Linked DNA regions of Homo sapiens. The protein of the gene in region 2 purifies or fractionates together with the protein of the main gene of each other region. This does not show direct contact. Each region holds a gene or a part of one and is shown on either strand. Other genes may lie near its edges. The genes, in order: RBM6 and MITF.

What was found.
Region 1: the proteins of MITF (region 2) and RBM6 purify together in Homo sapiens (affinity purification with mass spectrometry; 2 studies listed by BioGRID and IntAct, with this or other methods). This does not show direct contact.

The regions. Positions count from the first base shown.
Region 1 is NC_000003.12:49,941,273-49,953,076, forward strand, and holds part of RBM6 (RNA-binding protein 6), read left to right. Parts: intron 1-11,804. UniProt on the Homo sapiens protein: Specifically binds poly(G) RNA homopolymers in vitro.
Region 2 is NC_000003.12:69,957,242-69,969,045, reverse strand, and holds the end of MITF (microphthalmia-associated transcription factor), read right to left. Parts: intron 9,774-11,804; coding exon 9,626-9,773; intron 4,200-9,625; coding exon 3,798-4,199; 3' UTR 714-3,797; downstream 1-713. UniProt on the Homo sapiens protein: Transcription factor that acts as a master regulator of melanocyte survival and differentiation as well as melanosome biogenesis.

The DNA.
Region 1 (11,804 bases), about 20 Mb from region 2:
CCTTGTCTCAGAAACTAGCATCTAACTAGATACCTAACCTGCAGGACAGGTCCCAGGTCTCTCTGGATAGTTGTAGCACCTTTCCTTATAGAATTCTATTACCAGGCCGAGCCTGGTGGCTCACACCTGTAATCCCAGCACTTTGGGAGGCTGAGGTGGGGAGTTCGAGACCAGCCTGACTAACATGGAGAAACCGCGTCTCTACTAAAAGTACAAAATTAGCCGGGCATGGTGGCACATGCCTGTAATCCCAGCTACTTGGGAGGCTGAGGCAGGAGAATCGCTTGAACCTGGGAGGCGGAGGTTGCGGTGAGCTGAGATTGCTCCATTGCACTCCAGCCTGGGCCACAAGAGTGAAACTCTGTCTCAAAAAAAAAAAAAAAAAAAAAAAAAAAAAACCCGCAAAACTCAACAAAAACCAACATAGTAGAGGCAGCGTTTCGCCTTATGCCCAGCTAATTTTTTGTATTTTTTTAGTAGAGGCGGAGTTTCGCTATGTTGGCCAGGCTGGTCTTGAACTACTGACCTCAGGTGATCCACCTGCCTTGGCCTCCCAAAGTGCTGGGATTACAGGCGTGAGCCACCGTGCCCGGCCCTGTTATAGTATTTCTAAAACAAATTGTGAGCCTGGGCAACATCGCAAAACCCTGTCTCTACAAAAAATACAAAAAAAAAAAATTAGCCAGGCGTGGTGGCATGCTCCTGTTAGCCCTAACTACTCAGGAGGCTGAGATGGAAAAATCGCTTGAGCCGGGGAGGTAGAGGTTGTAGTAAGGGGAGATAGTGCCACTGCACTCCAACCTGGGCCACAGAACAAGACTGTCTCAAAAAAAAAAAAATCAATTAAATAAATTGTGGTAAATATATATTTTTATGTATGTTTATGTATATTTTAACAAAATTTGCTCTTTAAACCATTGTTAAGTATACAATTCAGCCAGGCACGGTGGCTCACGCCTGTAATCCCAGCACTTTGGGACGCCGAGGTGGGCGGATCACGAGGTCAGGAGATCGAGACCATCCTGGCTAACACGGTGAAACCCCATCTCTACTAAAAATACAAAAAATGAGCCGTGCGTGGTGGTGGGCGCCTGTAGTCCCAGGTACTCAGGAGGCTGAGGCAGGAGAATGGTGTGAACCCGAGAGGCGGAGCTTGCAGTGAGCCGAGATTGCGCCACTGCACTCCAGCCTGGGCAACAGAGCGAGACTCCGAGACTCCATCTCAAAAAAAAAAAAAAAAAGTATACAATTCAATGGTATTAATTACATTCACAATGTAGTACAAGCAATACCACTATTTCTGAAACTTTAGTATCTCAAACAGAAACTCTGTAACCAGGGAGGGCATGGTGGCTCACGCCTGTAATCCCAGCACTTTGGGAGGTCAACGTGGGCAGATCACTTGAGTTCAGGAGTTCAAGAACAGCCTGGCCAACATGGTGAAACCCCGTATCTACTAAAAATACAAAAATTAGCCATGCATGGTGGCATGCATCTGTAACACCAGCTACTAAGGAGGCAGAGGTTGCAGTGAGCTGAGGTCATGCCATTGCACTTCAGCCTGGGCTGCACAGCCAGACTCCATCTCAAAAAAAAAGAAAAAAAGAAACTGTAACCATTAAACAAGTTAACTTCCCATTTCCTCCTCTTAATCTCTAATCTACTTTGTGTCTGTCTGTGAGTGTGCTTGTTCTAGGTACTGCAAATACTAAATGGAATCATACAGTATTGTCCTTTTTTGTGTCTGGTTTATTTCACTTAGTGTAATGGTTTCAAGGTTGATCCATGTTGTACTGTGTATCAGAATTTCATTCCTTTTTAAGGCTTAATCCGTTGTGTGTGTACACTACATTTTGTTTATTAATTCATTTGTAGCAGACACTTGGGTTGCTTCTGCCTTTTGACTATTGTAAATAATGATGCTGTGATCATTGGTGTACAAATATCTCTTTGAGTCCCTGCTTTGAATTCTTTTGGGTATATACCCAGAAGGGAAATTGCTATATGGTAATTATTATTATTATTAATTATTTTATTTATTTTTTTTTGAGACAGGGTCTTGCTCTGTTGCCCAGGCTGGAGTTCAGTGGCACAGTCATGGCTCACTGCAGCCTCGAACTCGAGCTCAAGCAGTCATCCCGCCTCAGCTTCCTGAGTAGCTGGGACTACAGGCATGGGCTGCCACAACCAGCTAATTTTTTTGTTTAATTTTTATTTTTTGTGATGAAGTCTTGCCTTGTTGTCTAGGGTGGTCTCGAACTCCTGAGTTCAAGTGATCCTCCTGTCTTGGCCTCCCGAAGTGCTGGCATTACAGGCATGAGCCACCACATCTGGCCCATAATTTTTTTATTTTAATTTTTTTGTGGAGACAGGGTCTCCCTATGTTGCCTATGCTGGTCTCAAACTCCTGGCCTCAAGCCATTTTCCCTCCTTGGCCTCTCAAGGTACTGGTATTACAGGCATGAGCCACTGCACCCAGTTGATACTTGGTTATTATATGTTTAGCTTTTTGAGGACCCACCATACTGTTTTCCTCAATGGCTGCATCGTTTTACATTCCCACCAGTAATACACAAGGGTTCCAATTTTCCCACATCCTCCCCAACACTTATTTTCTGTTTTTCCTTTTTTGATAAATTTGTGTGTGTATATGTGGTTTTTTATTTGTGTGTTTTGATGATAGCCACCCTAATGGGTGTGAAGTGGTATCTCGTTGTGTTTTCTTGGTTTTTGCTTGTTTGTACCTTTTTACCCATTTTTAAGTGTGCTACTTAGTAGTAGTAAGTACATTCTTCTTTTTGTGCAACCATAATAAAAATCCAGCTTCAGAACTTTTTTCATCTTCCCAAACTGAGTTTCTGTACCCATTGAATAGTAACTCCCTATTCTCTCCTCCCCTGACAATCACCATTCTGCTTTCTGTCTCTATGAATTTGACTACTCTAGGTATCTCATGTAAGTGGAATCATATAATATTTGATCTTTTGTGTATGGCTTATTTTACTTAGCATAATATCTTCAGGATTCATCCATCTTGTAGTATGTATCAGAATTTTATTCCTTTTTAAGGCTGAGTAATATTCCATTATACATATATACCACATTTTGTTTATCCATTTATCTATTGATGGACATTTGGGTTGTTTCCACCTTTTTGCTCTTGTGAATATAATGGTGCTATGAATATCAGTGTACAAATATCTTTTTTTTTTTTTTTTTTGTGAGACAGTATCGCTCTTGTCACCCAGGCTGGAGTGCAGTGGCGCGACCTTGGCTCACTGCAACCTCTGCCTCCTGGGTTCAAGGCATTCTCCTGCCTCAGCCTCCCGAGTAGCTGGGATTACAGATGTGCGCCACCATGCCTAGCTAATTTTTTTATTTTTAGTAGAGAAGGAGTTTCGCCATGTTGGGCAGGCTGGTCTTGAACTTCTGACCTCAGGTGATCAACCTGCCTCGGCCTCCCAAAGTGGTGGAATTACAGGTGTCAGCCACCGCGCCCAGCCACAAATATCAAGTCTTTACTTTCATTTCTTTTGGGAATATATATACTCAGAAATGGAATCGACAATTGACAGAGCAAATGGTAATTCTATGTGTAATTTTTTTTTAAATTTTTTTTTTTGAGACGGATTCTTGCTCTGTCGCCCAGGCTGGAGTGCAGTGGCGTGATCTCGGCTCACTCCAAGCTCCGCCTCCTGGGTTCTTGCCATTCTCCTGCCTCAGCCTCCCGAGTAGCTGGGACTACAGCATCCGCCACCACGCCCGGCTAATTTTTTGTATTTTTAGTAGAGACGGGGTTTCACCGTGTTAGCCAGGATAGTCTCCATCTCCTGACCTCATGATCTGCCCGCCTTGGCCTCCCAAAGTGCTGGGATTACAGGCGTGAGCCACCGCGCCCGGCCAATTTTTTTTTTTTTTTTTTTTAGACAGGGTCTTGCTCTGTTGTCCAGGCTGGAGTGCAGTGGTGCAGTCACAGTTCTCTGCAGCCCTGACCTTCTCAGTTCAAGCTATCCTCTCACCTCACCCTCTTAAGTAGCTGAGACTACAGGTGCATGCCACCATGCCTAACTAATTTTTTTATTTTTTTGTAGCTGTGGGATTTCGCTAGGTTGCCCAGGCTTTATGTATCATTTTTTGAGGAACTGCCTTACTGTTTTCCACACTGGTTGCACCATTTTACATTCTGTTAGCAGTGTACAAAGGTTTTGTTATAGACTGAATTGTGTCCCCCTGAAAATTCACGTGTTGAAGCCCTAAGCCCCAGTGTGACTGTATTTGGAAATAGGACCTTTACAGAGAAATTAAAAAGTTAGAAGATATCATAAGGGGCTGGGCGCGGGTGGCTCATGCCTGTAATCCCAGCACTTTGGGAGGCTGAGGCAGGCGGATCACAAGGTCAGGAGATCGAGACCATCCTGGCCAACACGGTGAAACCCCGTCTCTACTAAAAATACAAAACATTAACCGGGCGTGGCGGCATGCACCTGTAGTCCCAGCTGCTGGGGAGGCTGGGGCAGGAGAATGGCGTGAACCCGGGAGGCACAGCTTGCAGTGAGCCAAAATCGCGCCACTGCACTCCAGCCTGGGCGACAGAGCGAGACTCCATCTCAAAAAAAAAAAAAAAAAAAAAAAAAGAAGATATAAGGATGAGACCTTAATCCAGCAGGACTGCTGTCTTCGTAAGAAAAGGACTGGATACCAGGAGTGCGTGTACAGAGAGAAAAAGCTGCATGAGGACAGAGGTAGAAGGGGGCTGCCTGCAAGCCAAGGAGAGAGACCTCACCTAAAACAAACCTTGCTGACACCTTGATCTTGGACTCCCAGCCTCCAGAGCTGTGAGAATAATTTCTGTGGCTTAAGCCTTCCACTCCATGGTATTTTGTTATGGCAGTCCTAGCATACTGTGTAATATAGGTTTCAATTCAGTTTCTCTGCATCCTCCACATCCTGGCCAACACTTGTTATTTTCTTTCTTTTTTTTTTTTGGAGACAGATTCTCGCTCTGTCACGCAGGCTGGAGTGCAGTGGCACAATCTTGGCTCACTGCAACCTCCACCTCCCGGGTTCAAGCGATTCTCCTGCCTCAGCCTCCCGAGTAACTGGGATTACAGGCAGCCGCCACCGTGCCCAGCTAATTTTTGCATTTTAGTTGAGATGGTGTTTCTCCATGTTGGCCAGGCTGGTCTTGAACTCCTGACGTCAGGTGACCCGCCAGCCTTGGCCTCCCAAAGTGTTGGGATTATAAGCATGAGCCACCGCGCCTGGCATTTTCTTTTTTTTTGAGACAGAGTCTCACTCTGTTGCCCAGGCCGGAGTGAAGTGGCATGATCTCGGCTCACTGCAACCTCTGCCTCCCAGATTGAAGCAATTCTTGTGCCTCAGCCTCCCGGGTAGCTGGGATTACAGGCGTGTGCCACCACGCCTGGCTAATTTTTGTATTTTAGTAGAGACAGGGTTTCACCATATTAGCCAGGCTGGTCTTGAACTCCTGACCTCAAGTGATCTGTCCACCTTGGCCTCCCAAGGTGCTGGGATTACAGGTGTGAGCCATCTCACCCGGCCTATTTTCTGTTTCGTTTTTTTTTTTTTCATTAGTAGCTATCCTAGTGGATGTGAAGTGGTATCTTATTGTGGTTTCTGATTTGCATTTCCCTGATGATAAGTGATGTTGAGCGTCTGTTCATGTTCTTATTGGCTATTTGCATATTCTCTTTTGGAGAAGTATCTATTCATGTCTTTTGTTGACCATTTTAAAATGGGGTTTTTCATCCTGGCTAACACGGTGAAACCCTGTCTCTACTAAAAATACAAAAAAAAAAAAAAAAAAAAATTAGCCGGGCGCAGTGGCAGGCGCCTGTAGTCCCAGCTACTCGGGAGGCTGAGGCAGAAGGATGGTGTGAACCTGGGAGGCAGAGCTCGCAGTGAGCAGAGATTGAGCCACTGCACTCCAGCCTGGGCGACAGAGCGAGACTCCGTCTCAAAAAAAAAAAGGGGGGGGGGGGGGGTTTTGAGCTGGGTGTGCAGGTGCACACCTGTATTCCCAGCTGCTCAGGAGGCTGAGGTAGGTGGATCTCTTGAGCCCAGGTGTTTGAGGGTGCAGTGAGCTGTGATTGCACCACTGGACTCTACCCTGGGTGACAGAGTGGCCCAGTCTCTAAAAATAAAATAAAATTAGGTTTTTGTCTGTGTTGTTGAGTTTTAGGAGTCCTTTATACACTCTAGATATTAATTCCTTGTCAGATATTTGACTTACAAATATTTTCTCTCTGTGGTTGTCTTTATACTCTGTTGATAGTGTCTTTTGATGCACAGAGGTTTTCATTTTGATGAAGTCCAATTTATCTTCTTTTTTTAAAATCTGTGCCTCATCTGCAAATATTACCAATCGAAAGTCATGAAATTTTTCCCCTAAGATTTTATAGTTTTAGCGCTTACGTTTGGGTCTTTGATCCAATTTGAGTTAATTTTTTATATATTTTTGTTGTGTAAGAGTCCCACTTTATTGTTATGCATGTGGATATTCAGTTTTCGGAGTACCATTTTCCATTTGGGAAAAAGATTGTACTTTCCCCATTGGATGGTCTTGACACCTTTGTTGAAAATCAGTTGACTAAAGTTCAAGACTAGCCTTGCCAACATGGCAATATCCCGTCTGTACTAAAAATACCACAATTAGCTGGGCATGGTGGTGCCTGGCTGTAATCCCAGCTACTCGGGAGGCTGAGGCAGGAGAATCGCTTGAACTGGGAGGTGGAGGCTGCAGTGAGCTGAGATTGCGCCACTGCCCTCCAGCCTGGGCGACAGAGCGAGACATGAGAATCTGTCTTAAAAAAAAAAGAAAATTGACCATATATGTGAGGATTTATTTCTGGTCTCTCCATTCAGTTGATTGGTCTTTATGTCTATCTTTATGTCCTTACTGCACTGTTGTGATGGCTGTAGCTAAATGGTACACTTAAAAATGGTTAAAATAGGCCAGGCACGGTGGCTCACGCCTATAATCTTAGCACTTTAGGAGGCTGAGGTGGGCAGATTGCCTGTGCTCAGGGGTTCGAGACCAGCCTAGGCAACATAGTGAAACCCCGATTTTACTAAAATACAAAAATTAGCTGGGTGTGGTGTGTGCCTGTAATTCCAGCTACTCAGGAGGCTAAGGCACAAGAATTGCTTGAGGCCTGGTGCTGTGGCTCACGCCTGTAATCCCAGCACTTTGGGAGGCCGAGGCAGGTCAAGAGATCGAGACCATCCTGGCCAATGTCATGAAACCTAGTCTCTACTAAAAATACAAAAAATTAGCTGGGTGTGGTGGCGCGCACCTAGTCCCAGCTACTTGGGAGGCTGAGGCAGGAGGATCACTTGAACCCAGGAGGTGGAGGTTGCAGTGAGCCAAGATTGCGCCACTGCACTCTAGATTGGCAGCAGAGTGAGACTCTGTCTCAAAAAAGAAAAAAAAAAAAAAGAATTGCTTGAACCCAGGAGGTAGAGGTTGCAGTGAGCTGAGATTGCACCCTGCACTCCAGCCTGGGCAACAGAGTGAGACTATTTACATACCCAATTTTTTTTTTTTTTTTTTTTTGGGATGGTGTCTTGCACTGTCGCCCAGGCTGGAGTGCTGTGGCGTGATCTTGGCTCACTGCAACCTCTGCCTCCTGGGTTCAAGCAATTCTCCTGCCTCAGGCTCTCAAGTAGCTGGGTTACAGGTACCTGCCACCACGCCTGGCTAATTTCTTGTATTTTTAGTAGAGATGGAGTTTCACTATATTGGCCAGGCTGGTCTCAAATTTCTGACCTTGTGATCCGCTGGCCTCAGCCTCCCAAAGTGCTGGGACTACAGGTGTGAGCCACCACGCCTGGTCATACCCAAATATTTTACCATAATTATACAAGAATTTATTATTTTTATTTTTTTCTTTTTAAATTCTTTAATCTTCTTCATTTGTTAATGCTTTGCTGAATCATAAAAAATTATGAAATAAAAAGAATAGGTCTTGTTGATTCTTCTTTTTACTTACCTCCCCCTACTTACCCCCTCTTACTTTATCAAAGAAAACACTTCATTTGAAACTTAACGGAAGTACATTCTCCCAGAGAGGAAAATCCTTCAGGACAACATTTTTTTTTGTTTGCTTGTTTTTTTTGAGACGGAGTCTCACTCTGTCCCCGAGGCTGGAGTGCAGTGGTGTGATCGCAGCTCATTGCAACCTCTGCCTCCCGGGTTCAAGCGATTCTCCTGCCTCAGCCTCCCGAGTAGCTGGGACTACAGGCGCCTGTCACCATGCCCTGCTAATTTCTGTATTTTTAGTAGAAACAGTTGGCCAGGATGGTTTCAATCTTATGACTTTGTGATCTGACCACTTTGGCCTCCCAAAGTGCTGGGAATACAGGCGTGAGCCACAGTGCTCAGCCAATTTTTTGTATTTTTAGTGGAGAAAAGGTTTCACCGTCTTTGCCAGGATGGTCTTGATCTCCTGACCTCGTGATCCGCCCGCCTCCCAAAGTGCTGGGATTACAGGCCTGAGCTACCACGCCCAGCCTTTTTATTTTTTTATTTTATTTATTTTATTCTCAGCCTTCTGGGTAACTGGGACTACAGGTGTATACCACCACGCTCAGCTAATTTATGTATTTTTAGTAGAAATGGGGTTTCGCCATATTGGCCAGGCTGGTTTTGAATTCCTGGTCTCAAGTGATCTGCCTGCCTCCGCCTCCTAAAGTGCTGAGATTACAGGCATGAGCCACTGGCCCAGACTACACTTAAAATTTTCAAATCGAGATATTTTGGGGGGCAAGGGTGCTTCTAGCAGCCACTAATTCCAGTTCTTGAGTGCATATTAAAGTTGCTACTGTTTAAAAGCTTGTAGTTGGATCCAGGGAGTGGGTAGGCGGTCAGAGTAACCCTTGCTTCTTGGTGTCTCCTTGATGCTCTTAGCTGAATGTCCTGTGTAGCCCACAACATTTACTTTGGGAAAAAATTAAGAGTGTTTAAAGCAGGATCAAGCTGCTGCATACCACAGCTAAAACTACTAGAATAAGACCCCTGGTTCTGTTTCATTGTTTTTTGGAGCTAAAGTCATGATTAAGAAGGATGGCCTGGGATATTGGTACTGTGCTGCTAGAGGTGCAATTCCTGGTTCTTTGCAAGATAGACCAGAGTGAAAGCATTTGTTAGGAATGTTTTTATTAATCAAGAGTGAAAGGCAAGGCCAGGCGTGGTGACTCAGGCTTGTAATCCCAGCACTTTGGGAGGCCAAGGTGTGGGATCATTTGAGGTCAGGAGTTCAAGACCAGCCTGGCCAACATGGTGAAACCCCGTCTCTACTAAAAATACAAAAATTGGCTGGGTGTGGTGGTGCATGCCTGTAATCCCAGCTACTCGGGAGACTGAGGCAGGAGAATCGCTTGAATCCGGGAGACGGAGGTTGCAGTAAGCTGAGATCATGTCACTGTGGTACAGTCTGGGTGACAGAGGGAGACTGTTTCAAAAAAAAAAAACAGAAAGAATGAAAGGCAAAACATTAAAAATAGAATTACCATGTGATCTAACAATTTTACTTCTGGATATATATCCAAAATAATTGAAAACAAAGAAAAAGAAAAACAGAGTCTCGATGAGATATTTGTACCCATGTTCATAACAGCGTTATTCACATTAGCTAAAATGTGGAAGCAACCCAACTATTCATTGATGGATGAATAGATAAGGAAAATGTGGTATGTACATATAACTGAAAAATTATTCAGTGTTAGGAAGGAAGGTAATTCTGACATATGCTACAACATGGATGAACCTTGAGGATATTATGCTAAGTGAAATAAGCCAGTCATGTAAAAGACAAATACCATATAATTTCACTTAGACACTTTGAGTAGTGAAAATCATAGAAACAGAAAATAGTTGTCAGGGATGGTGTGAGGGATGAATCAGCAGTTACTATTTCTTTTTGTTTGTTTGTTTTTTGAGATGGGGTCTTGCTCTGTTGCCCAGGCTGGAGTACAGTGGTGTGATCTTGGCTCACTGCAACCTCTGCCTCCCAGGCACAAGCCATCTTCCCACCTCAGCGTCCTCAGTAGCTGGGACTACAGATGTGTTCCACCTTGTCCGGCTGATTTGTGTGTGTGTATATGTGTGTGTGTGTGTGGAGACAAGGTTTTGCCATGTTGCCCAGGCTGGTCTCGAACTCCTGAGCTCAAGCATCAAGCAATCTACCTTTTTCAGCTTTCCAAAGTGCTGGCATTACAGACAAGGGCCACTGTGCCTGGCCTTTACTATATTTTATTTTATTTATTATTTATTTATTTATTTATTTATGTATTTTGAGATGAAGTCTCACTCTGTTGCCCAGGCTGGAGTGCAGTGGCACGATCTTGGCTCACTGCATCCTCTGCCTCCCAAGTTCAAGTGATTCTCCTGCCTCAGCCTCCAGTTATTATTATTATTATTATTATTTTTTTGTTGTTCTGTTTTTTTGAGGTGGAGTCTCGCCCTGTCGCCCAGGCTGGAGTGCAGTGGCACAAACTCGGCTCACTGCAACCTCCATCTCCCAGGTTCAAGTGATTCTTCTGCCTCAACCTCCCAAGTAGCTGGGAATACAGGTGCCCGCCACCACGCCTGGCTAATTTTTGTATTTTTAGTAGAGACGGGGTTTCACCACATTGGTCAGGCTGGTCTTGATCTCCTGATCTTGTGGTCCACCTGCCTCGGCCTCCCAAAGTGCTGGGATTATAGGTGTGAGCCCCCATGCCCTGCCTTGTTATTATTATTATTTTTATTTTTTTGTCTGAGACGGAGTCTTGCTCTGTCACCCAGGCTAGAATGCAGTGGCACGATCTTGGCTTAGTACAACCTCTGCCTCCCGAGTTCAAGTGATTCTCCTGCCTCAGCCTCCCGAGTATATAGGACTACAGGTGTGTGCCACCATGGCTAATTTTTGTATTTTTAGTAGAGATGGGGTTTCACCATGTTGGTCAGGATGGTCTAGATCTCTTGACCTCGTGATCTACCCGCCTTGGCCTCCCAAAGTGCTGGGATTACAGGCATGAGCCACTGCGCCTGGCCCCAGTTTTTGTATTTTTAATAGAGACAGGGTTTTGGCATGTTGGCCAGGCTGGTCTCAGACTCCTGACCTCAAGTGATCTGCCCACTTCAGCCTTCTGAAGTGCTGGGATTAAAGACATGAGCACTGTGCCCAGCCACTTTTACTATATTTTAAATTAGGTTACTTATCCTTTGTTTTTTTTTTTTTTTGAGACGAAGTTTTGCTCTTGTTGCCCAGGCTGGTGTGCAATGGTGCATCTCGACTCAACGCAACCTCTGTCTCCCGGGTTCAAGTGATTCTCCTGCCTCAGCCTCCCGAGTAGCTGGGATTACAGGCATGCATCACCACGCCAGCTAATTTTGTATTTTTAGTAGAGACAGGGTTTCTCCATGTTGGTCAGGCTGGTCTCAAACTCCCGACCTCAGGTGATCCACCTGCCTTGGCCTCCCAAAGTGTTGGGATTACAGGCGTGTGCCACTGCTCCTGGCTTATTTTTCTTTTTGTTACTGAGTTGAAATCATTTTTTATATATTTTAGATACAAGTCACTTACCAAATATGTAATTTGCACAAATTTTCTCCCATTCTGTGGGATGTCTTTTCATTTAAACCAAAAAATTGTAGAGATGGGGGTTTTGCTGTGTTGCCCAGGTTGGTCTTGAACTCCTGGTCTTAAGTGATCCTCTGACCTTGGCCTCAAAAAGTGCTGCGATTATAGGCATGAGCCAATGTGCGCAGCTTACCTTTTCTTCTTTTCTTTTTTTTTGAG
Region 2 (11,804 bases):
TCTAAAAAAGAAAGGCCTTGATTATTGTATATTACAATTTAAGAAGAAAATTAAAAGTAGGAAAAAGCTGACAGTCAGATCAGAAGCATTACAGGAAGTTTCTTGCTCATTTTCTCCAGAGGTTAAGCCAGAATATATTTTTTAAAAGGGCAGAAGTTTAAGGTCTAGCTAGGGAATAAAGACATGTTTTGTCTGACACTTCCCAATTCAAATCCAACATTTATCAAATGATTCTTAAGTAGTGTATTAAAAAAAAAAGGCAACCAGGAGCTGGCAGCCTGGGTATATTAAGCTTTCATTATTGTAAATTTGTATTTTAAAAACCCAATATCTTTTCTGTAAATATGCAAGGGTTTCTCTGACAATTTCTCTTTTTTAAAGCCACCTCTCAATGAAACATTTTAAATAAAACTCCTATATCTAAAATGAAGTCTTGGCATTTGGGAGTTTAAAATCTCCCCAAATTCAGAGGGGGATAAAAAAGGTGCATAATTACACCTCATCTGAGTGTAAGTCAAAAAGTAATCAAAAATGTTTAAAACCAAAAAGTAACATCTTAGAGTGGCATTTTAAACAAAAAAAGTACTTACTGGCATTTTCTAAATTTTCATGCAATTTGTTATTCATTAAATCAGAAGAAAATGTGCACTACCATTTTTTGATATGGCAGATAGCATTCAAAATTGGCATTAACACAATAGGCCACCACTATGTGAAAAACCAAATGCTTTAATGAGGCTATCAAGAACAAGTCGATTATTTCATTGGATACATTAATATCGATCCATAATATACAGTGCTATGGACCATACAGAAATTATTGCTGCATCCAACAGCAGGTGACTATTATTAACATTACAGTACCAAGCATCCGCAAGAGACAGTCATTTGTCATTTTTTATCAAGAAATAGGGCTGTTTTATACTGTTATTGACATCAACTTTTTCCCAGTGCATTTTTCAAAAATATTAATAAGTTCATTCCTTTGTGCTTTTAACTTCCTATGTATTGTATTTGTTCTTATTGCTTTATTGTTTAAAAACAACCAGAAAGAATTTTGTCATCCTATGTATGACCAGGTTGCTTGTATGCTTTTTGGCAAAGTCAGAAGGTTTGGTATTTCCATTGCCCTACTCAGAGGCAGATGGACAATTTTGGCATTTTGGTCACTCCATATAGAGGCCCAACCCCGAGTTACAATTCTGCACCCGGGAATCGGGGGAGTGGTGTGGATCATTTTCTTGTTACAAACAACAAGCCCAAACCACTGCCTCTTGGCTTAGCTAGCCCCTGAAATGAATCCACACTCTATTTGGCAAAAAAGAAATAAATAAAACCACCCCCAAGATTGCAGCATTCTCCTGGGCTTGCTCACCTGCCACCTGCAGAAATTGTCTCTTAAGGAGAAGGGGAGGGGGAGGCAGGCAATGGCAAGGTTAGGAGTTGTGACAGTCAGGGCAGTGGTACAAGATGCCATACTTTCTTTCAACAAAGCTTTCTATATGGTTGCTTAACCATGGTCCTGTTCCCGTGGCCGTAGGTTAGTCAACCTTGCTTTATTTTTAAAAACCCTCAAAATCAGCTAAGGAAAACTAACATCATAGCATCACGATCTTCAACTTTTGCATCCAGCGCCCTCCCCCCCATATAAATATGAAGAGAAAAATAGACAATGCTATGATTGTATCAATGAACACTATGGTACAATTAGCTGTTCATGCAGATTTGCGTCACTATTCTAGGAAAAGAGCTATACAGTTAAGGGGGTTGAAAGAATGGGAACTAATTTTCCCTACCCCCTTAAGAAATAAAGCTATAAAACTGATAGCATCACCAATGTTTCCAAGGATTCTCATTGCCCAGCGTGCATGGGAACTATGCAGTTGATTATTTTCACCTAAACCGTCCATTCACACATCTGACGATCACTCCTCTCTGAACCCTCCATCACCCATCACCAATTCACATTTGACATTTAAACACTTTTTAAAAACCCTCCTGAATAAGGTTTCCTGATGAAAGAAGTTGGCACTCTGTCACTAAAATATATTTAATATTAAAAATATCTGAAGGAAAATTGGAAGCTCTTATATTGTCTACATAGGCACCATGCTACATGTTCGTCTTGACTATAGATACCATCATGAAACTTTCCCCTACATTACAGTTCAGTCAGTGCTAGTCCAAAAAAGACTACTGCTATATTTAAGGCACTTCATTCTGAATGGATATGCTTTATGCCACTTGCTATTCAGTTGTAGGCTGCTACTGAGAAATTCCATTCAACAGCCTGGCTCATAACACTATATGGCATCTGTATAAAACATCTAGGCTTGATACATGTAACACTACTGTTATTGCATAGGACTACACAAGTAGATAATGCACTGAAACTAACTTTATAACATTGCTTCTTGTTAAAACATTGTTATCAAGTAACAGTAACTTCCCAATACAGTATTTCTTTCTTAAAAATAAATTCAACAAGTTTGCTGAAATAAACCCCAATTTAAATGACCATAATGGGCGTATTAATGCTATGGTTATCAATCTCCAAGAATATTGCTATTTTCATGTCCTAAAAATAAATATGTAAGTTTATTCTTTCTAGAAAGCCTGGTTTTAACCTATTAATACTACACCTTAAATGTGTCCAAAAACAGTTCTGAGTGAGACTGTAATTTACAAAATATTCGCAAAGCTGTCTTTTAAATGCAAGACCTTGCATAAAAGTTTTCTTTCATGGGTGTACAAAGAATGCGGAAAACCACCAGTGAGTTGTAAAAATATGGAAAACTTGCCATTTTAAGATGCATATTCTTACAAATTAATACAAATATATTGAAAAGAACAATGATAATAAAGAATCTGTACAAATCAAATGAACAGTAAAACATAATTTAAAAATAAAAATAGTAAAGCCAATTAGAAATATGCCCAGTTCGGTTTTCTTATCAAAAGCAAAAATAAAATAAAAAAAAAGTAAAACATACTTTCAGTGCTCCTCAATATTTTACTTTGAGAGGACATTAATTTCCATTTCAAAATAAAATATCTTATGAAAAACTGGATCACACTCATTGATGAAGAAAACTGTAACAGCACAGAATAAAAGAGAGCAAGATTAGACTTTATATTTCAGAGCCTTGGTCTAACTCCCTTCAGTTTCGGTTGGTATCAGTTATGTTTTCTAACCAGACGATCCTCATGAAAAGGCCGCATTTTTTTTTTCTTTTACAGAATACATATTTCTTTAAATAGTTTGCAGTATAAAGACTAAACAAAGCTAGAGGGGTACTGTATCTTTAAGGCAGTACCAATGAATCAATACATTTATAAAATGGAAAAGGGTTAGTATGGATTTCTTTTCCTCTTTCTTTCTTTTTTTTTTTCTTTTTGGTTGCTTTACATTCTTTCAATTAAACTTTACATTTGATTTCCAAGGAAGTCACAGGCATAAAAATCTCAAATCAAGTTTCCCCTGAATAAAAATGGACAGACATTTCTCTGACGCAAAATCCTCTTGCTCAGAAAGCTAAAGTCTGTGGTGAATTCAGTTCACAGATACTGCACACTTATTTGTACAATACTTTGGAGGCATTTGTAGTTGTAAAATAGAATATACAAGTCTGTTTCACAAAATTCTAAAAATAAAATATATCCTGGGCTATTGATAAAGCATGAAAAAAAATTTCATATTAAAGGAAAATTATCAAGAAAACCCCTTCAGGTAAGTTATTAAATCTACGAATCAAGAAAGGAAGCAGTTTGTGCGAATGCAGTGCAGGGAGGATTCGCTAACAAGTGTGCTCCGTCTCTTCCATGCTCATACTGCTCCTCCGGCTGCTTGTTTTGGAAGCTCCGGGGGACACTGAGGAAAGGAGTGGATCAGTGACACCGACGGGAGAAAGGGTGTCGTCCATCAGGATGTCTTCCAGTTTGGATCCCATTTTTGTGGGGACACTATAGGCTTGGTTGGCCTCAGTCCCAGTTCCGAGGTTGTTGTTGAAGGTGATGGTGCCATCCGTGAGATCGAGAGTTGTTGTACAGGTTAGGTCTGCATGATGCTGAAGGAGGTCTTGGCTGCAGTTCTCAAGAACGGGTTCTTGCTTGATGATCCGATTCACCAAATCTGGAGAGCAGAGACCCGTGGATGGAATAAGGGAAAGTCCATGAGCTCGAGCCTGCATTTCAAGTTCCTATAATAAGAGTAAAGATAAAACACTGAAATAGGCAGAGCACAGAGGACTTTTAAGCCTGTGAAACCACTCTATATGATACTATAATGGTAGATGCGCGTCATTAGACATTTGGCCAAACCCACAAAATGTACAATACCAGAGGGAATGTAAAGTATAGACTTTGGAGGATAATGAAATGTCACTGCGGGTTCATTGATTCTAATAAATGTGCCACTCTGGTAGGGAATGTTGATAATGGGGAAGGCTGTGCGTGCTTGGGGGAATGAGGTGTATGGGAAATATCTGCAGCTTCATTTCAATTTTACTGTGAACCAAAAACTGTCCTGAAAAATAAAGTCTATTTTTAAAAATCAGATACTTGGAAAACAATAAATCCTCAAAATAAAAGTTTTTTGTTCTTTTAAATTAATGAGCTCTGTATGTTCTAAAGTATAGGAGAAGTACCACTGGCAGTATGTGAAATAAATTTTTAGGTGTTTTATAGATTTGATTATGTATGAAAAATAGAGATGGTCTCTCACAGATATTAATGTTCACACTGAGGATAAGTTAAAAAATACAAAAATAAAGTTTTAAATGCGAGCTGATAAAAGAAAAATATTATTTGGGAGGCCGAGGGGGGCGGATCACCTGAGGTCAGGAGTTTGAGATCAGCCTGGTCAACATGGTTGAAACCCCGTCTCCACTAAAAATACAAAAATTAGCCAGGTGTGGTGGCACATGCCTGTAATCCCAGCTACTTGGGAGGCTGAGGCAGGAGAATCGTTTGAACCTGGGAGGTGGAGGTTGCAGTGAGCCGAGATTGCGCCATTGCGCTCCAGCCTGGGCTAGAAGAGTGAAAGACCATCTCAAAAAAAAAAAAAAAAAAAAAAAGAAAAGAAAAAAGAAACATATTCAGTAAAGAGTTCATGGTCCTTCAGCTTTCATGGTCCTTCAGCTTTGCACTGAGGTCCCCATGTGTGCTGCAATGAACTCACAGAGCACTGGAGATAGCCTAACATTTCAAGGGCAATGGCAATACTACCTGAGAACTACTAAACTCAAGATAGTTCTCTTCTAGCATCAGACTGTGCTATATACTTTTCAACCACATGATATCATTGCAAAGTTGAGCTTTTGGCAGTTGCTGTGATTGAAGGAAAACAAGTGCCACATGAACATCATTGTGGCCTGGGAAACAAGGGCGATGGGGTGATGGTGTCCAATCTGATTCCAAGACTTTAGAAGTCGTGCAGTGCCCAACAGACACACACATCCAGTTAGTAAGTAATATGGTTATTTAATAACAAAATAAAAATGCTATTTCCTTTCAATTTATATGTTTTATTTTTTCAAATGGCTACCAAGTTGTTAGAACCTAAATACTTAATAAGTTGTTCGGACCTAACAAAAAGAGTAGGTATTTCTTTTGGTCTAGGGGGATGGTAAAAAGATTGCTAAAACACTAAGAGTGCCATGAAGTAAAAAATTTGGGTAGTGATAGCAAAAGCTGTGAAAGTTCTATGCCAGTAACTAAAGTTTTAGAAGCATCATTTAGCCCATCTCACCATGGCAAAGGGGAAGTATTTTTTTAACTCAACAAGTACGTTCTCATCTATAAGATGAACAATTTTTTTCCTTTCCTTCCTCACATACATTCCTATTATTGGCTAAATTGTGTCCTGGAAAACATTTGAATGTTGAAGTCCTAACCTTAGTACCTTGGAATGTGACTGTATTTGGAGATAGGGCCTTTAAAGAGGCAATTAATTTAAAAAGAGATTTTACTAGTGGGCCTAAACCCAATAGGACTGGTGTCCTTGTAAGAAGAGGAGATTGGGACAGACACACACAGGAAAAAAGACCATGTGAACACACAGGGAGAAGACAGGCATCTACAAGCCAAGGAGAGAGGCCTCAGAAGGGACCAACCCTGCTGACAACTTGATCTTGGACAACAACTAGCCTCCAGAATTATGAGAAAATAACTCTTGTTTACCACCCAGTCAGTGGCATTTCACTACAGCAGCACTAGCTGGGTAATACACTTCCTAAATACCCTTGATTCCCCCTGTAACTCATTGCAAAATGCCTTCCAAGCAAGCTCTTTCCCTTTTTCCTTTCTGAGTGTATCCCTGGGCACTCCTAAAATGAACCACACAGACTTTAATTGATTCCTGATAAGCATTCTGCTTCTCCATTCCAATGCTATCCCTTCCACGGTTGTGAAACAATAATATATAGCAAGAGAATATAAATTTGAAGCAAGTCACCTTTCCTTATCAGAGAGGGGAAGGACTCTCCATATGACATGGCCTCTCAACCTCTGCCCACAAGCTGAGAAACATATGTGCCTGCAAAGCCACGTTTCAGTCTAAATTCAAGGTTTTTGGGTCTGCAAAATCCTTCTTTGGATACAATATGAGTAAAAGCCAGGAGCTTGACATGTCACACAAGTACCTTCAAGTTCCTTTACATAATCTCCAGAAACACAAGTTTCTTCAGGCACCATTTGAAAGCCCTGGGCTATTTAATAAAATGGCAGTTCCACTGACATAAAGGATTCATGCTCTTTCTTCTGTGAAAACTTTTGCATGCATCACTTAGAGTGAAAATGAAAGAAAGCCCTTAGGCCCATACTGAAAACATGGACTCTTGTAAATCTACACCAACATGCTAATAAGAACAGTACCTCCACACAGGCAGATTGTCTTTTCAGAAAAAGAATAATAAAGTTGGATTAAGAGAGGCAAACATCTCACTCTAATCCTTTGTTGTCTAATTAAAAATATTTATCAGCGATTAAAGCATTACTCAGATTTCTAAATAAGGTGATAAATCTCATCTAGAGAACTCTGGCTTAATTGCATCACAGAGCTTTCCTAATTAATAATGTTTTCTGTGATATGCAAAAGTTCTAAAGGCTGCCTCACACCGTCACTGGAAGAAAACCAAGATATCGTCACCATGGAATTTCCAATGCACATATTTCACAATATTCGTATTTCATATGAATATACATGTTTGGAACCCTAAAATAAAACAAAACCTAGCTTCTCTTTCAAAATAGTTATTACATTTTAATACTTGTAGAAGGAAACAACACATTAGTACAAGCTGCTTTTTTTTGTTTGTTTTTTGAGACGGAGTCTTGCTCTATAGCCTAGGCTGGAGTGCAATGGCACAATCTCAGCTCACCGCAACCTCTGCCTCCCGGGTTCTCCTGCCTCAGCCTCATGAGTAGCTGGGATTATAGGCATCCACCACCATGCCCAGCTAATTTTTCTTTTCTTTTCTTTTCTTTTTTTTTTTTTGTATTTTTGGTAAAGACAGGGTTTCACCATGTTGGCCAGACTGGTCTCGAACTCCTGAACTCGTGATCCACCCACCTTGGCCTCTCAAAGTGCTGGGATTAGAGGCGTGAACCACCGCACCCGGCCACAAGCTGGTTTTATTTTTATTTTTATTTTTTTGTTTTTTTTTGAGATGGAGTCTCACTCTGTCGCCTAGGCTGGAATGCAGTGGCGCGATCTTGGCTCACTGCAACCTCTGCCTCCCGGGTTCAAGTGATTCTCTGCCTCAGCCTCACGAGTAGCTGGGATTACAGGCGCCCGCCACCATGCCCAGCTAATTTTTCTATTTTTAGTAGAGATGGGGCTTCAACATCTTGGCCAGGCTGGTCTTGAACTCCTGATCTTGTGATCCACCCGCCTTGGCCTCCCAAAGTGCTGGGATTACAGGCGTGAGCCACGTGCCCGGCCCACAAGCTGCTTTTATAAATAGGCAGACTATGTTCGAGAGATTAAATACCTATAGCTACTTATTGAAGAGACAGAACATAAAACCAACAACAAAAGCCAAAGTAGAGGAGGGGAGGGGAAAGGAGGGCTTTCAAATTACACACTACCTCTACTTCACTACCCAGAATCTAAAATGCACCCCAACAGGGAAGTGGCTTCCCACCTCCCCACCCCACAGCTGAGGAATCACTGCAGTGAATGAGAGATGTGGCATTTCAAAATATAAGCATTCAGAAGACTGGAGACCATTATTATAAGTGAATTGCTCTGTTTGAAAAGTTCAACGTCCGGGAGGAGCACCACTAGGTGAAACACAATGGTCGCTAGGGTGTCATACTTCTCATTGCTGTTTCGTAAAATAACTCCATGAATAGTTGCACTGGAAAAGTTGAAAGACAACCCTTGCTTTATGGCAAAATCTAGTAAAAGGTGGGTCAGCCTACTCAAGAAGAAGATATGGTGTCACTGACTCTTACAGATAGGTTGTGTTCAAAGTCAGCAAATTAAAATTACCCTCACAAACCCCCTTTGGTCCATAACAGGGAGTCTGTTTTTGAGGATCATTTCAGAGGAAGTAGTGCCCTTTCACTCAACAAGAGACGCCAAGCCCCTGAGAGAAGTTCCAGGAGTTGATACCAAAGAGGAATTCCCCATCTCCGGCTTACACTGGTGCATATACCCACTGAGTAGGATGACGCACAAATGGCACATATTAATAAAATTAGTATGTCTTCTTCTAATGGTGTATAGTTTAAGTTAAAGATATATATGCTATAATTCCACTATTTATAACTATCTCCAGGAATTATGTCCTTAATATAAGATCCTCTGGGTGTTCCCAAGTTCCCTGTAAACACAGATTTTGACCATCAACTGCTTCCCGGACCCTACAAATACTAAGGCATCTTCTTGTTTAACGTGGTATAGTCAGTACTTATTTTTTTTATGTTCTACAAAGTCACTGTGAACACTGAATTGGTGAACACTGAAGCACTGTTCCCAGGGGAATTACAAGTTAGGTTCCTGTGAGACCCTAGTCACAACACTTAATCTTGTTTTATGTATGTTTCTGTTGAAGGTCACCTTATGTAATATATGTTGTTGACTCATGAATATTAAACTCACAGCCAATAGCACTGTAGCTCATGCCTGAACGAAGCTTATCCAACACATGTATTTTCTCTGTAAGCACATCACGGCCTTCTTGCCCTCAGGAACTCTAGACAGTGCTTTAGCATTATGCTTGGGGGTCATTTTAAACAGCGAAATCACCAACAGAAACCACAAAAATGTAGAAAGTACTCAACAGACCACGAAAGGAGCACTTGTTTAGAGGATGAGAGCTGAAACAAGACAGCAGACAGTCAACCTCAGGCAGGGTCATTCGACCTCACCTGGAAATGCGTGCCATGGGCAGCTCAAACGTGCCACTCTGCACATGTCCAAGAATGACTGTGGAAGTGCCACAGATACTGACTTTGGGGTTACAAGTAGGCAAATTCACACACACAGAATCCACAAATAATAAGGATTGACTGTGTTAGGATCACGTAAGTCAACTCCCCTATGGCTCATTATATCCCTGTTTCTACTGTCTTGAAGTCGGTAAAAAGCAGTAAACTTTACACAACTCAGGCTGCGTACCTGTATTCTGAGCAACAAATGCCGGTTGGCGTGCTCCAGTTTCTTCTGTCGGTTTTCAAGTTCTTTTGCGCGTTGCTGTTCTCGTTGCAACTTTCGGATATAGTCCACGGATGCTTTTAAGATGGTTCCCTTGTTCCAGCGCATGTCTCTGCGATGAAAATGGAGGAAAACAGATATTTTTAGGATTTGAGGCTCAATGAAAATTCAATATTCAAAGCACTCCATTTCTTTTTGAACTTTTTAAAATTTTTTTTTATTTCAATAGTTTTGGGGGAACAGGTGGTGCTTGGTTACATGGATAAGTTCTTTAGTGGTGATTTTTGCGATTTTGGTACACCCACCACCCAAGCCGTGTACACTGTACCCAACGTGTAGGCTTTTATCCCTCACCCCCATCCCACCCCCTCCCTCCCTTCCCCGCAAGTCCCCAAAGTCCATTGTATCATTTTTAAAAGCATTCAATTTTAAAAATAAAATAATCATACATTAATTATAGCTGCCATTCACGAGTGTTTGCCACGTGCCTAGTGTTGCCCACCCAGTTTGTACACATTGTCTTACTTAACCCAGACAAGCACCTTGTAAGAGAGAGACTGTGCACATGTTGAAACAGACACAATTCAACTTGTCCTAGGCCACACAGTACTATATGGCAGAGTCAGGACTTAAAGTTAGGTCTGTTGATTACAAAGTCAGTTTCCTTAAACACTATGTTAAAGAGTTATAGGTTTCTAAAACTACAAAAGTTAACTCAGTGAGAATAAACGATGGTAAAACAGATCTGTGAGATCTCACTACTAAATTGTTTATGGCATAAACTCAGCATCCTTCTATTTTTTTTTTTTTTAATCAAGGATTATCATGGGCAGGCTATCTAGCCTCTCTTTGTCCATTTCCTCATCTACAAGTATCAGGTGGAACCGGTGAATGGAGGGTCATTAAACAAGTCACCAAGTAATTGATCCTCATCTGGGTTACATGAAGAACAACACAGAAGTTCTCCCATAAGAGGGACAGTTCCAGCCCCCAGAGAATTCCCTGGAGTTGATCCCTGGGGTCTGAACACCAAAGATGGCAACCCAGGGGAATGTCCTGAGATACCCACAGTGAGCGCAGAGACTTAATATTCAGAGCTAAGATCAAAGTAAGAGAAGTAACTTTAGCAGCCAGAGAGAAATGTAGTTAAAATAAATGATGCTTCACATAGGCCAGCAAGAAGAGAAATCAGAATTGGGATATTTGAAGGGTCACTCAGTTTAAAAGAAGTGATTGTTTCAACCAATTATCTTGGGTTTTGCTTCCTTGTGAGATCCAATCAATCAATTATGCTTCTGAGTTTAAGAAAGGGTTTTCAAACTTTTTTTTTGTTTGGTAATAAGAGGGACTCTTTTTTCACAGAATAGTGAATATAGATCTCCATTATATAAAATCAACAAATGCAGACTTGCTCTGGTGGGAGAAAAGGTACCGGGCTGAGACCCCAGTCTGTAAGACTGTGTCTCTATAGCAGCCCCAAGGCACATTCTAGAAACCTGGTGTGGGAAACCACCATATAGATTATAGTCTGTTTTGTCTTAAAACAATGCCTACAATTAAAGATCATTATCAGTTCAGATTATAAACCCGCAAGTATTCTAATACAACGGGGAAAGAAGATATGCAAATAGAGGCTTTCACTGCAGCCCCATAATTTCATAATATGTTGCTAAAGAGATTCACATGCTACAGTTTAAAAGAATATGCTAAAAAGTGAAAGCTGATAAAGAAGAGGAAAATGGGAATTCAATTTCAACTATCATGCAAGACTGACTATAGGAAATGAAGGTCACAGCCCTTTAGTAGGATAAATTTGTGCTGCAGAACTGAGAATCTGAAATGTTTCGGGTTTGAAAATGCCTTTCCTTGAAACCTGGGAAAGCAAAACATTGAAGATGGAATTGTGCTTGTACATTCATCAAAACCACCTCACAATAGGTAATGGTTTTATTTTATTTTGTTACAAATCCTCTAACAGTAACGTGAACAGCAAATTTAATAAGCCTGGCATGAATAATACTTGATTTCATCTTTACATTTTATTAGGTAGCTAAAAGGTCATATTCAAAGGCTAATTTCACAGAATGCCTGTGGGGGCCATTAAAATGTATACATTTTCTAGCCCCTTGCTTCAAATGGGCCA